Regions from separate parts of the Homo sapiens genome. Here regions 1 and 2 are each reported to be linked to region 3. The links are microRNA targets in miRTarBase. Many come from high-throughput screens and were not tested one by one. Region 3 holds a microRNA gene; each other region holds the end of a gene's coding sequence.

What was found. Region 3 holds the annotated microRNA hsa-miR-1911-3p (CACCAGGCAUUGUGGUCUCC, at 2,276-2,295, shown strand). A microRNA usually pairs through its seed, bases 2 to 8, with sites in the 3' UTR of a target mRNA and lowers its output. Matches are read on the target gene's strand: a 7mer-m8 pairs with bases 2 to 8, a 7mer-A1 pairs with bases 2 to 7 and ends in A, and an 8mer does both.
Region 1: miRTarBase lists SAMD4A as a target of hsa-miR-1911-3p. Seed matches in the 3' UTR shown: 7mer-m8 at 2,608-2,614.
Region 2: the mRNA of TEDC1 is a reported target of hsa-miR-1911-3p. Seed matches in the 3' UTR shown: 7mer-m8 at 4,079-4,085.

What each region holds. Positions count from the first base shown.
Region 1 is chr14:54,788,059-54,793,283 of GRCh38, forward strand. It overlaps SAMD4A (sterile alpha motif domain containing 4A), which reads left to right. Exons shown (of 13, transcript NM_015589.6): 13 at 858-5,225. The coding sequence ends at 886. Among named protein-coding and RNA genes, the nearest start is that of MIR4308, 88 kb to the right of the region's middle.
Region 2 is chr14:105,498,039-105,503,263 of GRCh38, reverse strand. TEDC1 (tubulin epsilon and delta complex 1) reads right to left here. Exons shown (of 9, transcript NM_001367178.1): 9 at 4,016-4,647. The coding sequence ends at 4,318. Among named protein-coding and RNA genes, the nearest start is that of TEDC1, 9.4 kb to the right of the region's middle. RefSeq lists a silencer at 4,158-4,452.
Region 3 is chrX:114,760,957-114,766,181 of GRCh38, forward strand. It overlaps MIR1911 (microRNA 1911), which reads left to right and starts at 2,228; the gene lies at 2,228-2,307. All of the region lies in intron 4 of HTR2C (5-hydroxytryptamine receptor 2C), which reads left to right. The region is part of intron 3 of LOC105373313 (a long non-coding RNA gene); the gene reads right to left.

The DNA.
Region 1 (5,225 bases), not on the chromosome of region 3:
TGGCAGATTCTGGGCGGCCTCAGCACTCTCCCACCTCCCCAAGACTGTTCAGTTCTAAGTGCCCACAACACCTACCTCAGACATCTCTGCCTTTGATCAGATTCTCGAGACAGAGAATCTGGATTTGTTTGGGTCAGATGTGTCCATCCCTCTGGTCTGCTCAGCTGTGGACAGGGTCACAGCCACCTTGTCCCCAGTGTCTCATCAGGGACGTGGGTTGAGAAGGAGAGGCTGCCAAAGAAAGGGATGTGAGCTAGACAGGTCCACCTGCGTGTCCGTTGCAGCCCCTGCCTGGCTCTTCCACCCCATCTCCTCTACTGCATTCCCCATCCTTCATCCTAAACCTCCAACGCACCCTCAGCTCCACCACCGGATGACCTATCATCCCACCTATGCATGCACCGCACACCATCCCCACCCTCCTCCTCCTGCCAGCACCAGCTACAAAAGTCACTTTGTATCTCTCTGAAACTGTCCTTGACTTCCCAGGCCAACCGGGCAGCCATCATTCCTTCCTCCACGATCCTGCTCTCTTGGTACCTACTCCATTACAGCAGTGATCACATATAGCATTATTGTCTGTCTACATGTCTGTGTCTACCCTCAAATATAAGTACTTGGGAGGTGAGGATTAGATATTTTCATCTTGGTTCTCAGGTTCAATATGGCTCCTGGCAAAAATAGCTGTTCCCCAGATATCATGTGGGTGGGTATGTAAATGCGTGAACACATGAACGTAGGTGCCCTTCTCTGCCCTCAGAGGCTGGGAGGCCCACCGTGCATGGCGTTGGCATAGGTGGGCACGAACTGGATTGTTTTGCTCACCTGTGCCCATCGTTTGCTGCTTTCTCTCCCAGACGGGGTTGACCGGACCTCCACCATCTAGAAGCTGAAGACGAGAGTGACCGCGCTGGCCGTGAAATCGACTGCTGCGGGTCCAGTGTCCGCCATCTTCAGGGTTGCACAGAATCCTCCAAGATACTTTGCAGCCTTTTTTCCCCCTGGTCCCTCTCCCGTTTTGATTTTGTGAGAGCGTAGGTCATCCTCGTAAACATATCAGTAGACCTGGGGTTGGTTATTTTGTCATTTGTTTCTGTCATGGGATGGTTTGGTGTGTGGGGTGGGGAGGGGTCTCTAGGGAATTATGAGACTGGGAGGGGGGTGGAGGGAATGCAGGTAGCTCTCTGGATGGAACGGGGACAGGGGAAAGAGTACTGCCATGAAAGAGATAGGAGACACATAAGAGGACAGCAGAAGCCCTGGCCCTGGGGAGGCTTCTCGGAAGGCCTGGCTTCACAGGCAGGCCACAGAAGGATATCGCGGGCACGTGCACCCAAAGCAAGATAGTGGCTTCCCTTTTATATCCAATCTAATCCTGATTGGATGTCCCTGAGGCCCCTGCTGGAAACAGCCATAGGAGAGGGCCCATGGCAGTAGGGGAAAGAAGGAAGAAATTCCCTGCAACAAAACTTCAGCTAAACTTTGATTTGTGTATTGTTTACATAATAATTTTAAAGGGTACATAATGTGTAAAGAGTTTGGATAGAACCTCTCTTCATACTATGGTTTTCGTAAAGGATCTGTTGTTGTTACGGATTCATTTTTTCCCTCTATTTTTATAAGAGCAGCAGAGTTGTCTTCTCAAAACGGCTGCCAAGCTCTGCTTCTTGGGAAGATGGATGCAGTCATGTAGGCCTGAGCTGTCCGTCTTTCACCGTTAGGTGGGAGGAGCGTATGGGTGGACTTGAAGGACATGGACGTGGCTGGAATGAGCACAGCATTGGGTGAGCGCACAAGGATGAGGACATCATGTGATCAGTTATGGGTTTGCTCGCAGGGCACCCAGAGATTCTCAAAGAATCCTGCAGCCTCTTTCTGTGCTGGATTTGCTTGTCACGGAGAGGCCTCCCTCCCTTTCCACCCCACCCATGGGGCATTATCCTGTCACTCCCAGCCTTGCTCCACACACACACAGGTGGGTACAAGTTCCACTGGAGGAGAAAAGGCAAGGATGGACTTTTTCCCCTTGTGAGAGGTTTGATACCCAGAAAATGAGCTCAAAACCTTTACATTAGGGTTGCTTGTAGGAACTGGAGCCTGGAGGCTGCATCTACTTCACCTGTCACTGCTGAGGGAGAGGAGGGGAGAAAGGCCCAGCAACAGCGTACAGAGGGGTCAGTCAGCAAGTCCAGAGAGCACATGCAGGGAGATGTTTGGCCCACACCGCACAGCCCCGCCATCTCCAGTGGGCGATGAAAGATGTAGGAAAGGTTGATTTCAAGATGGAAATGACAGCGCTATCCGCACAGTATGAATTAGGGATTTGCTGTGTTAGTTGATTTATCCATCCACACAGAGGGGAGGAAAAAGACACTCGTTACTTGGTGGGAGATTGAGAAACTGTGGTACCTACCACAAAGTAATAGCTCTGTTTATGAAGGGCAAGAAAGGCTACATTTCAGAATTTGACACAGTGGAGGGTATTAGAGGAAATCAAAGAGGAGTTGTGTGGAAAATCAGGTTGTGTAAATGAAGGTATGAATGCTCAGCCAGAGGCAAGATCAGGGAGATGGTACAAGGCCTGTTTGTTACATGGATGAGTCGGGTGCCTGGTTGTGTGTGTGTGTGTGTGTGTGTGTGTGTGTGTGTGAAGTCAGAGTTGAAATTCAGAAGATCAGACTATGGAAATCACTGCCCTTTTTTTTTTAAAAGCTAATGAACTACATACAGACCTAAAAGGCCTTAATGAAATCCGAACAATTTTCTTTTACTTTCAAGATCAAAAACATGCACCCAACCCAGCCTTGGATGCCACCACCAGGTTTTTGAAGCCCTTTTGAGTCTAAGAAGGTGAGAACAATGTAACCATAGAAAGCCTTTCGTGAGCAGAGAAGGCTTGAATCCACAATTTCATTCGCTGAATTAAAAAAAAAAGGTTCAGACCTCTCCTTGGGTGACTAAGTTCTAAAGATGCAAATCCATGTGCAGAAAGAGATGGCATTTTTTAGTTGATTATTTTTAACCAAGTGCCATTAACATTCATCCCCCACATCCCTTTTCTAAACAAGCTTAGTGTTACTTGGGGAATGTGTTGGGATGGACGATCACATGTAAGGCAGGAAGAATAGGTCAAAGGTTGAAGGCCAAAGGTAAGACCAGAGGGTTTGCGAATGTGGGTTTGTAGGATACTGAGAAAGTGAATAAAGAGGAGAAAAAACCATGGTATTACACATCTTGCTGAGAAAGGAAAGCATTCGGATCTGCTGCAAAAACACATATATCCATAAAGACTCATGTTATTCAGAAAACAGATTGTGAACACAATCACATTCGCATGAATCCTTTAAAAGGAAGAAGACCTTAAAGTATCTGCAAATCTGAATTTCTATTTATTCCTTCACTGAATATAGAAACAATGGTTATCTGATTATTAGAGATATTATTTTGGATATGTTACTTATTAACTTGCTATGGCTGGTAACCATGATAAAGTCTGTTATTAATAACAACATAATTCTTTTTTTAAAGAAGAAAAGCTTATTTTTCATTGACAGTGTATAGATTTATCTACTTAGTTGTGTTTTGCTATTAGTGTTTTAATTTTTTTTTTAAGTTGAGTGTTTGATAAATTTTAAGACCCTGTCCCCACCTTGTTTTGAGTCCTGTGTTGACTACAGGTATATAGCTCAATTTAAAAATCCTAAAGCAAAAGAATTTTATTTATAAAAGAATCAAACAGTTGCATGCATGAGGCTGTGAAGTCAGATATTTAGTAATAAAAGCAGCAGTGCCTTTTTTTGTATTTACCCATTGACCCCCACCAAATGCAACTGTTTTATATTAAGAAAATAGTAACAATTTTAAAATCTCAGAGTAAAATCTATTTCACTACATGCTTTTCCCCCCTTGTTCTGATTTAAGCAGTGTGTACTTGGCATCTCTACATTGTCCTAGGGACAGTGGTGTTCTACAATATTATCATGTATGATGTTTTATTGGTGCTTTTTATTCATAGTGGCTTCTTACCAGAAACAGTAGGAAGAAACACATGAACTGTGTACAAGACATGAAACATTGCTGCTGATATGTTGTTTTTTCACATGCTTTTGAGTTTTCACTTTTTAAACGAGAGCCAGCAAGCAAAATAGATGTGGCTGGGTCTGCCTGTCCGGGCGGCTCTTTGCACCGAGCTCTCAAATCCTGTGTATTGAGGGTTCCTTTTTGGTACTCAGGATTGGAGCTACAGCTGGGCCCCCCTCTCTCCCATTCGTTTGAAGAGACACTGAGGGAAACAAGGGTTTCTTTTGAGGTGTCCTTGGCTGCCTTTTACGGGATGGGAGCCTTCTCCGGATCTTTTGTTCTTCTGCACCTCTTGTAGCTACTGCCGGTGCAAGGTTGTAGATGTTATTCCCCAGGAGCCTGGGCTTGGGGGCTGAGCTGGGCTGAATGCAAAAGCATGCAACCAGAAGGCGGGCAAGGGGAGGAAAAGCAGGCCTGGCCTCATTGGTCCCCTGGAGATGTCTGTAGCAGTCAGCTCCAGCTTGGGCCTGGGGAAGCAGCCTGACCAAGGCGCTCAGGTGTGCCTGTTACAAGAAGAACCTGCAGAAGGATAATTTGCACATGGAGCTGTGATAACACTAATGTTGATTTTTTTTTTTTTTACAAGTCATCAGAGATGTTTGCAAAGTGAGTTTTATTTTTTTGTAATTCCTTTATCTTTACTTAAAGGTGAATGTGTATTCCTCTGGGAGGAATAGGAAGAAAACAGGAATGTTAATAATGTCGAACAGAAAACTTCCTCCCTTATTAATATATAATCCTCATGTATTTATGCCTAATGTAAGCTGACTTTTAAAAAGCTTTCTTTTGTTGCATGCCCTGTGCAGGCATCTGTATTGTACATGCATGCCTTTCGTCCTGTTTTCCTGTATAAAGTTAGTGAACAAAGAAATATTTTTGCCTAGTTCATGTTGCCAAGCAATGCATATTTTTTAAATTTGTCATATATGGAAAGAGCATGTTTGTTACATGTAAAAGCTTTACTGATATACAGATATACTAATGTTTGAAGATGCTGTTCTTTGCAAGTGTACAGTTTTCAAATGTTGTTACCAGTGAAACACCCTTGTGGTTTAAACTTGCTACAATGTATTTATTATTCATTTCCTCCCATGTAACTAAGAATCATGGCTATATTTCATATCAACGTTATATTGAAAGTGAAG
Region 2 (5,225 bases), not on the chromosome of region 3:
CGCACCCTGGGGCCCTGCCCTGCCCTGCCCTGCCTCCCACCCCGGCTGAGCCCACCCACACCCTGCATTCTCACATTCCATTCTCCAGCCCCAAATTCCAGGTTCACGCAGCCAACTGCCCACCTGACACCCACTAAGATGCCAAGATTGTGAGCAGGTCAGAGCCGGGCTACCAAGCAGCAGTGCCCACCCCAGCCTGCCCAGTTCTCAAACCACCATGGGCCCAGCCACCACAGCTCCCTACATCACACCCGCAACCAAGACAGCGGCCAATCCTGTGCCCCAGTGGGCCAGAACCCACCTAGTCCAGCTGTCCTCCAAACCCACCTCCTCTGAGCCACAGAACCTCCCCACCAGCGGATGGGGGCAGAAGCCTGGGCCCTGCCTACTCTCAGCTTGTGCCCCCCTTGGGGCTGAGCCCCGGCGGGCACCCATGTCCTCCAGCTGTGAGCACTTTCCTCTATGGTGTTTGCTCTTCCCTCTGGGACATGGCCATGGGGCCCCTCAGAATGGCACATATTGGGCACCACGTGACTTCAGGTAGAATGACTGAGGGACCAGCCCAGCACAGCCAGGCAGGGCAGCGAGAGGCCGGGCAGGACACCCTCCGACCACTCTGAGGACAGGGATGGCTGCAGAGCCAATGCAGGCTCACACGCAGGGACAGACAGCTGGAGGCTGAGCCCAGGCGCAGGACTTCAGAGCCACCAGCCACAACCACACCCAAGGCCATGGGGTAGACAAGGGCAGTGTGGACTGAGCGGTCAGGGTCCCCATGAGATAAACAGGAACCACTCAGAAACACTTCTCTCCTGCCAGGAGCGGTGGCCTACGCCTGTAATCCCGGCACTTTGGGAGGTAGAGGCAGGCAGATCACTTGAGCCCAGGAGTTTGGGACCAGCCTGGGCGGCATGGTGAAACCCTGCGTCTACTAAAAATGAAAATACAAAAATTAGCTGGGCATGGTGGCACGCGCCTGTAGTCTCAGCCACTCAGGAGGCTGAGATGGGAGGATTAGTTGATCCCGGAAGATCGAGGCTGCAGTCCCAGCCACTCAGGAGGCTGAGGTGGGAGGATGACTTGATCCCGGAAGATCAAGGCTGCAGTCCCAGCCACTCAGGAGGCTGAGGTGGGAGGATGACTTGATCCTGGAAGATGGAGGCTGCAGTGAGCTGACTGTGCCACTGAGTGACAGAGCAACATCTTGTCTCAAAAAAAAAAAAAAAAAAAAGAGAAACCCTCCTGTCCAACCAAGGCGGGACTTCAGAGGCCGTAGGACACATTCCCTGGGCTCCAGGGGGAGGTGCGACCACCACAGGCCCCAGAGGTTGTGATCCTGACCTGGCCGGAGTCCCAACCAGCCTCATCCCTCAAGGCAGGGTCAGCCAGGACCAGGTGAAGGAGCCCTGAAGTAGTGCAGAAAGGGAAGCAGAGGCCAGGAAGGCTGAGCCAGCCGGAACAGAATAGGCAAGCGTATGAGACACTGCACTTCCATCTCATTAATCGTTTTTTCTTTTTCATATAGGGTCTCACTCTGTTGCCCAGGCTGGAGTGCAGTAACAAGATCATAGCTCACTTGGCCTCATAGCCTTGGTCTCCAGGCTCAAGCGATCCTCCTGTCTCGGCCTCCCTTCTATGTAGCTGGGACTACAGGCACATGCCACTACACCCAGCTGCTTTTTTTATTTTTTGTAGTGGTGGGGCCTCCCTATGTTGCCCAGGCTGGTCTTGATCTCCCAGGCTCATGCAATCCTCCCATCCAGGCCTCCCAAAGCGCTGGGATTACAGGCATGAGCCACTGCATCCAGCTGCACCACCTCTTAATAAACATTAGTTTTGGCCGGGCACAGTGGTTCATGCCTGTAATCCCAGCACTTTGGGAGGCCGAGGCGGGTGGATCACCTGAGGTCAGGAGTTCAAGACCAGCCTGACCAATACGATGAAACCCCATCTCTACTAAAAATACAAAAATTGGCCGGGCATGGTGGCGCACTGCTGTAATCCCAGCTACTCAGAAGGCTGAGGCAGGAGAATCGCTTGAACCCGGGAGGCGGAGGTTGCAGTGAGCCGAAACTGCGCCACTGTACTCCAGCCTGGGTGACAAGAGCAAGACTCTGTCTTAAAAAAAAAAAAATTTCTAGTTTTGTTGAAGTTTATTGCACCTTCCAGTAAGCGCACTTGGTCTCACGCGCCAGGTGACCTCTGCTGTTTCCTGTGAGGCCATCTTCGCCTCTGTCTTCCTGGGAAGCAAACTGCACTGTCCTTACACAGATGCTGGCTCGTCCAGGGTGCAGGGCCCTACTGCCCCAGCCAGGCCGACACCGTGGGCCTCCAGGCTGTTCCGTGGGTCTGGGGCAGGTCGCAAGACAGAAGGGAAAAGCTGCAGCTGGCCTTAAGACAGGAAGTCTATGGGGACAGAGGGGATGGGGGTCTTGAGGATGACTCGGGCTCCTGAAGGCAGGGGAGGGAGGCAGGAGAGTGTCAGAGAGGCAGTGTTGTGAGGACCTCCATGCCTGCTCTGAGCTGGGGGCCACACAGCCCTGCCTGCCCATCCAGCTTTAACCCTGTGGACTGGCAACCCCCGACCCACAGAACAAGAGGGCGTGACTTCAGGCGACTCGAGCCACTGCATGTGTGATAACAACTAGAGCTGAAGGCCAGGGTCCCATCCCTGCTCCATCATGACGGGCAGCACTAGGGCACCCTGCCGGCTTCCCTCCCGCAGGCCCTGGCCTCTCAGGCCCTCTCCACCGCCAGCATCATGGGGGCACACGCGCACCCAGGACTTGGACTGCCCTGAATTCACGCATCACATCGAGAGGTGACAACTCCATGACAATAAGCCTGCTTTTGTGCTCGTAAAAATCAAGTCCCCCAGGCCCGTGAGAGTCCTGGTTCTGTGGCAGTTTATAAAAAGCAGGGCTTCAAGTGGACTTGCTCCCAGCCCAAGAAGAGCCCTGTCCGGCAGTCGAGGGTTGCTGAGAGCACGGGGGACTTTCAGAGGCTGCAGGTGGAGGAGGGTTGAGGTCTGAGGGCCTGGAACAGAGCTGGAACCAGCAGGTGGAGGTGGCAGGAGCCCTTAGGAGGAGCTGGCGGAGGGGCCGGAGGGTGGCGCAGGCCAGGGAGCATTTGCACAAATCCTGGTGGCCCACAGGAGGCCCAGCTGCATGAGAGGGTCAGAGAGGTGCTCCTGAAAGGGAGGCCTTGCTGGCCACGGCCAGGTCTTGCCGGTGCTCCTGGGTCCCATGCACCGGAATGGGAAGGCAGGCGGTCTAGGCGTGTCCACCCCTGGGACCAAGGAGGCCCAGACAGGCTGAGACTGGAGCTGGAGCCCCAGGTGTGTGCTGTCACTCAGGCACATGCCCCAGTGAGAGCATGTTCTGGCAGGGGGAATGGACGTGGCCTCGGGGCAGGGCCGGCAGGAGCCTGGAGGTGGCCCCACAAGCCCCATCGTCTGCCCACCTCAGGTCAGAGTCCGACAGCCCCAGAAGAGAGGGGAGCCCGGCAAGGCAGGCAGGGCTGGAGGCCTCAGGGCCACCTGTGTCTGCTGGTGGGGGGCGGGGGGGGTGCCATGAGGCCGACCCTCCTTCCGCCAGGCTGAGGCACGTCCCCCGGACACAGATGGCTCTTTGTCAGGGATGAGCTGAGCTTGCTGAGCAGCCTCTGGAACAAAGCCCCTCTGTCCATGCTGTGCCTCCCCACCCGGAGCACCACCTCCCGGGAAGGAGCAGAGCCCCGGGCTCCCATCCGGCGCACCCACCAGGCACAGCCTTGGCCGGAGGTGGGGGCAGCTGTGCTCACAGCCCAGGGCCAGGCCCACAGCGGGAGCCCAAATGAAGGGGGGCGGGGCCGAGATAATCCCGCTCCAGGGAGGCCTGTGCCACCTCCCCGTGGTCCTGCCACTCACCAGTGCTGGGGTATGCATGTCCTCCAGCACCTGGCCAGCCCTACACTGGCCACCACTGCCCAGGGGCTCCTCCACGCTCCCACCCCCAAACAGGGAAACCCGACAGGGTGGCAGGGGGAGGGCCAGCGGCAGGAAAGCTGCTACAATTTATTTCCGAGTCCCCTCCAGACCACCAGGCTGAGCCTGTCACGACCTCCTCAAGGGACCAGCCATTCCTGTCCCCAGTGCTGCTAGCCACAGGCCTGGGATCCGGCCAGAGTCAGCCCAGCCCCACCCCTGGAGCGAGCATGTGACGTGGGCTCTGCATCTGCATCGTCCCTGCGGCCACCTGGCCTTGGAATCTGCTCCTCCAAGACCCAGCCAGGCTGGGCCAGGGCAGGCTTCCCACACGAGGGCCCGTCGACAGGCCCTCAGCGTCCAGGTGGCGGGATCCAGATGAGACCAGGGCGGGCTCCCACCAGCCTGGCCAGTTCCTGCCGACACTGTCCCTGTAGTCGACGTAGCACCGCCTCCAGGCAGGCCTCCTGGCTCCTCAGCGTCCTGATCACCACAGCTGCCCGCAGGTCCCGGTCCCCTGCTGCCCCATCCTCTCGTCTCACCAGCCGGTGTGGCCCATGGGGCTGGGCCGGGCCACCGTCTCGCTCCCAGCACTGCTGTAGAGCTCCCAGCTCCTTTTCCACAGCCTCCCGAGAGGCCCGCCGCGCGGCACTCCACTCTGGCCCCCGTCCACAGCCTCCAGCCTGCGTGGGACACAATGGCAATGGCTCTGTCCCCCCAGGACACTGGCCTCAGGCTCCCTGAGCATTCCCTGAGCCCAGACTCAGGTGCAGGCGCTGCAGGCATGCGGGAAACGCCCATGCTCTTCAGAGAGGCTTACTGAAAATTTTAAGGGGAAAATCATGCCTGCAATTTAAGTTAAAACTCTTCAGAAAAAGAAAATAGATGGAGCCAACACAGCCCCGTGTTCACAGCCATGAACCTGCGCAGGTTAAGCGGGCAGCTCTGAGTCTAGGGTGGAGGCCCAGGTGGCCACCAGGAGGTTAGACGGGTCCCAGGCAGGTGTGGAGGAGTGACTACTACCGTGTGATGCATGTGTGGCGGACGCATGGGAGCAGCAGGGCCCACACAGCACGGGCTTCCCTCCCTCATGCAAAGAATCAGACAACAGACCTCCCGCAGGAGGGGCGGGGGCTGTCTCGCAGCAGCTGCGGCTCCTCACCAGGTGCCCTCCCGCTCCCTCAGGGTACGTGCCTCTAAGTGTGTCCCCTGCCATGCTTGACAAATGCAACTGTAGGATTCAGCAAGTCCAAAGTGCCCT
Region 3 (5,225 bases):
ACCCATGCAATCAAACATCTGTGCCAGAAGTAGATTTTAGGTTACTTTGTTATGGAAATGCATTCTCCATTTTAGTAGCATTTTTTTTCTTAATTAGAGGAAGTGCTTTCAGAAATTGCAAATTACATAATGTAATTACAGCCATTTTAATGAACTAAAGCAAGTAAACATCAATATAATTTTAAGATATTTAAAATTCTTTATAGTTTTTTGCTTATCTTTCTAAGTTAGGGCTAGTAGTAATAACTACCTAAATAATTTGAATCCCTTGAGAATGCAAATGTATTAGGCTTGGTTTTCTGTTCACCTGAGTCAAAAAACCTGTGGATCAGAAATAAGTCTGGTAGCTAAAATTCCTGTGGAAGTTATAAAAGGGTTGTTTTTTATCAAAATATAAGATTATCTATGTAAAAAGGAACTAACCAACCGGTTAAGTATGTTAATTGGAATTTGGAAGGATTTGAGAACTGGAAGGGAGAGAACTAAAATTGTTGACTAGTAACTTTGTAAAGCCCTAGACAACAATCAACCCATTTCATCTTTACATTAAAAATAATTATCATTAACTGAGAATATACTATAACCCCAGGCATTCTGCAAAAAATTTCACATGCGTTAACTCATTTAACTCTTCCAAACCCTTTCAAAGAAATGTGTATTATCTATTTTTTCATATTTTAAATAAAGGAAAGTAATGTATAGAAGAGATAAGTAATGTGTCCAAGACCTTAGAACTTTTCAGTAACACAACTGATTATTAAGCACAGGCCTATAAAACTCCAAAGTCCTTGTTTGTAGTCATTGCTTCATGTTATATGTCACTTAGAATGCTCCTTTAATGAATAACTACATTAAAACATAGAACTGATAAATAAGGCACCCTCCCCCCAAAAGATTACTCTCTATCTCTCTCTCTCTATATATATATATATGTGTATATATACATATATGTGTATATATACGTGTATATATACATATATGTGTATATATACGTGTATATATACATATATGTGTATATATACGTGTATATATACTATATATACACATATATATAGTATATATACTATTTGTACACATATATGTGTATATATACATGGTTTTCTAGATATATATGCATGACAGTGAATTATCTTTGAAATTTAATTATTCCATTAAAATGGAATATATGCTTATAAATCTTTCTGGATTTTGTAATTTTGTCTTCATTTATTTTGAAGAATGCCTTAAATCCAAACCCCCTTTTGCTAGAGATTTATGCCTTTTTGTAAAAGATAGATATTGTCAAACCTAGACCAGAACTATATTTGGGAAAGAGGGTTTGGGAATGGATCTAGAAAGTGTAGATCCATCATATTTTCCACTGTCATCCCTGGGGATTTTCAAGGATTCCATCAAAAGTTACTCACTGGAGTCCAAGTTGTCCTAAATGTTCTCAAAACATATACAGTTTATGAAAATAAACATGCAATAAATAAAATCTCCCTGATTTCTTCGAATTGGTTAATGAATAGCAGAAGACAATCTTCTCATATATATTAATACCTCCAAAATTTGTATAACTAGAGGTCATTCTCAAAGTGAAACAATTTTCTTGTGTGTATAAAGGTGGTACCATATCCCTAGATAGATGGCATATTAAGCCCTAGGGTATTGGAACATATTGTTATAGTGGCTCTTTGGCTGAATTTTGCCTGCAGATAAATTTTGTTTTGGCCTAGCCAACAATTTTTAAACTTTATCATTTGAATACATTTTAAGAGTGAGTTCCAACTTTGCTATCTTTTCTACCACTCCCCATCTTCTTATACCCAGCTGTCCTACCCACTGATATTACCTACCTGGTCCCTAAAAGTGTTTACATTTGTGATGGGCATCACAGCTGTGAGCACAGAAGAAATAGCTTTCATGTTGATACTCCACATTCACCCCTGTGCTAACAAAGGTCCTCTAGCCCTCTAGAAAAAGTACACTCATTTTCCCCTAAGTACTTCTAGAAGTCACCAGTGGTTCTCTCGTGTGATCATGAGCAAATCAATTTTCATCATGCACTGCTGCAATTATTCTGGGCTTTCATGGAGCACACATGTATCCACCATCACCCGTCATCATTCATAGTATCTGCTGGGCATTCATCATCTACCACTGGGCATCCATCATCTCCCATTTGGCATTCATCATCTCCCACTGGGCATCCATCATCTGCCACTGGGTATCCATCATCATTTGCTCGGCATCTGCTGAGTACCGCCATGTCTGTTGGGCATCCACAGTCTCCCACCAGGCATTGTGGTCTCCGCTGACGCTTTGCCATTTCGCCACCGGTGCCTTCCATGAGAATGCTGGTTACTTCTCCAGAGTGCTGTCACCCGGGGCTGCCAAATCTACAAACCCTCAAGATACCAGGTGTGCTGCATTTGCGTCAGTATTCATTGTACTTAGCTGTGTTCCTTGCATAAATTAGGAAAATGCCCCTTTATAACTGTGGCACATTTTGTTATCTAAACATTGAAAAAGCAATACTTGTCCCTGTCCCCTTCACAAAGTCCCTCTGTAAAACAGCTATCTCTGTTTTATCTTTCTTTGTTACTTATGGTTATCATCCACAGGGCTTACATATTCCACAGGGCTGATCTTGAGTCTATACACTGATGCCTTAATTCCTGTCCTCAGGCATTCACCCAAAAAACATCCCTCTGAAAAGCTTAGCAGGTAACTTGTCAGCCTTGTGTACTTGTATATACCTAGCATCTACTCCTATATCTGGTCTTTTTCTTTTTAATGGATAGATGAAGGCCTCCTTCCTCTTTGCAAATCAGTTCATGAGGTGATATTCTTGGAAATTCCCAGGCCCACATATCTTCACCTGTGAATCATTACTTTGGGTTTGAAATGTCTTCTCCCAATATCACTTTTCCCTTTAACAATATCCTTAATCACTTCACTGCGGGATCTTTATCCTAGAGAAAAAAATTTCTTTACCGGGTAAGTTTCCATTCTAAATACAAAAAGAATAATGGTATCAGTATATTTAAATTATAATGACATATGTGGAAGAATACAGTCCAGAGGTCCTGATTTTTGTTCTTATATCTAGAGTCTTCTACCTCTGGTTATCCTTTGCTGTTTCTCTCTTCTATCCTCCTTAGAAATGTACAACTTTGGCTGGGTGCGGTGGCTCATGCCTGTAACCCCAACCCTTTGGGAGGCCGAGGCGGGCAGATCACCTGAGGTTGGGAGTTCGAGACCAGCCTGACCAACATGAAGAAACCCTGTCTTTACTAAAAGTACAAAACTAGCTGGGTGTGGTGGCGCATGCCTGTAATCCCAGCTACTCAGGAGGCTGAGGCAGGAGAATCTCTTGAACCCAGGAGGTGGAGGTTGCGATGAGCCGAGATCGCACCATTGCACTCCAGCCTGAGGGCAACAAGAGTGAAACTCCATCTCAAAAAAAAAAAAAAAAAAGTAAAAGAAATGTACAACTTTTACATATTAATTACTGGTTTAATTCCCCAATAAATGCACAAAATAAATAAATAATGTAATTGTAGTTAACATTCCAGTTCTGGTTGCAAAAATAATTTCACTACAGGCAGATAGGCAGCACTGTCAAAGCTAAATAACAACGGCCAACACTTGAGTTTTTGCTCAGGGCCAGACATTGTTCCAAGTATTATACATGTACTATCCCTATTTAATACATAAAGAAAACAATGCACCAAAAGTTTAAATGCTATCAGTATTCTACTGCCAACAATGGGACGCACCTCCTACGTTTTCTTCCTTAAGAGGAGACATCCTCTGTCTTCTCAAGAAAGATTAGAATTCCCTCTGTAGTGTCCAGTTCTGGTGATTTGAAGATTCTCCTCATTTTCCTTTTTCTTCTTAAATCTCACTCCTTCATGGAATCAATCTTTCTTTCTTTCTTTCTTTCTTTCTTTCTTTCTTTCTTTCTTTCTTTCTTTCTTTCTTTTCCTTCCTTCCTTCCTTCCTTCCTTCTATCTTTCTTCCTTCCTTTCTTCCTTCCCTCCATTCATCCCTTCCGTCCTTCTCTCTCTCTTTCTTTCTTTCTTTTTTCTTTCTTTCTTTTTTTTTCTTTCCTTTCTTTTGACAGAGTTTCACTGTGTTACCCAGGCTAGTTGTGAACTCCTGGGCTACAACAATCTACCCACCTCAGGTTAACAAAATGCTGAGAATACAATCATGAGCCACCATGCCCAGCCTTGGAAACTTTCAGTGATTTTTATATTGTCTGCTAATGTGCCAATTCCTAGAGAGCTAAGTTCTCAGTCCTTACTTCATGAACTTTTCCCTCAAAGCCTGTATGTCTATGCCAAGAGCCTTTTAACTGGGTTGAATGATGGTGGTGAAGGAAGCTATTATAACAAGTACTATAATAGCTAACTTTAATTGAACACTTACTCTGTCCATTTATCTTATTCAATCCACACAACCAACATATAAGTATTTTTCCCACTTTACAGATGAGGGAAATTGAGGTATACAATTTTACCTCATTTTAGGGCCACAAAAGGCTAATATCCATCCTCACATCACTGGTATTAAAGGTCCCATTCTCCCAGCTAGCCAGAGTGCTATTTCTGCCACCAACCCATGGAAATGTTGAACATACTATGTTCCTGAAAAACAACAACAACAACAACAACAAATATTGATTCTTGCTTGATGTCTTGATATGGCTCTAGAGACACAGAGTAACATAACTAAGGAAATAGTCTTTTGTATATTTAAGGGTAATTTCTCCAAGCCCTACCATAATACTAATAGTTAATAGTTATTGTGTACTTATTAGTACTGTACATGGTCCTAGCTGATACACACTGTTTTAGAACTATAGCTTTACTCAAAATAATTTTATTTCAGTTCAGTTCAGACTCTATTAACACCTGCCTAAGACAGTTTGAAGGCCCAGATTGCAATGCCTCTGCTATCATGCAATTAGAAATGGAATTAAGGAGAAATGGGAGGGGTCATGATATATCTTCAAAGACTTGAAGGATTTTCATACTCATACGCTTCCAAAGACAAAAGCAAGATAAATGGTAAAAGATACGGAAAGAATCAGCTTAGGGTTCAATAAAAGCTCTGTCTTTCAAAGAGAGGACACCACCAGCCATCACTAGTGGTTATGCAAAGAATTTGTGCCTGGAATAAGAGCTTGAACTAGATTTTTTTTGAGGTTGTCTTTTATGTCTTAAGATTCTATA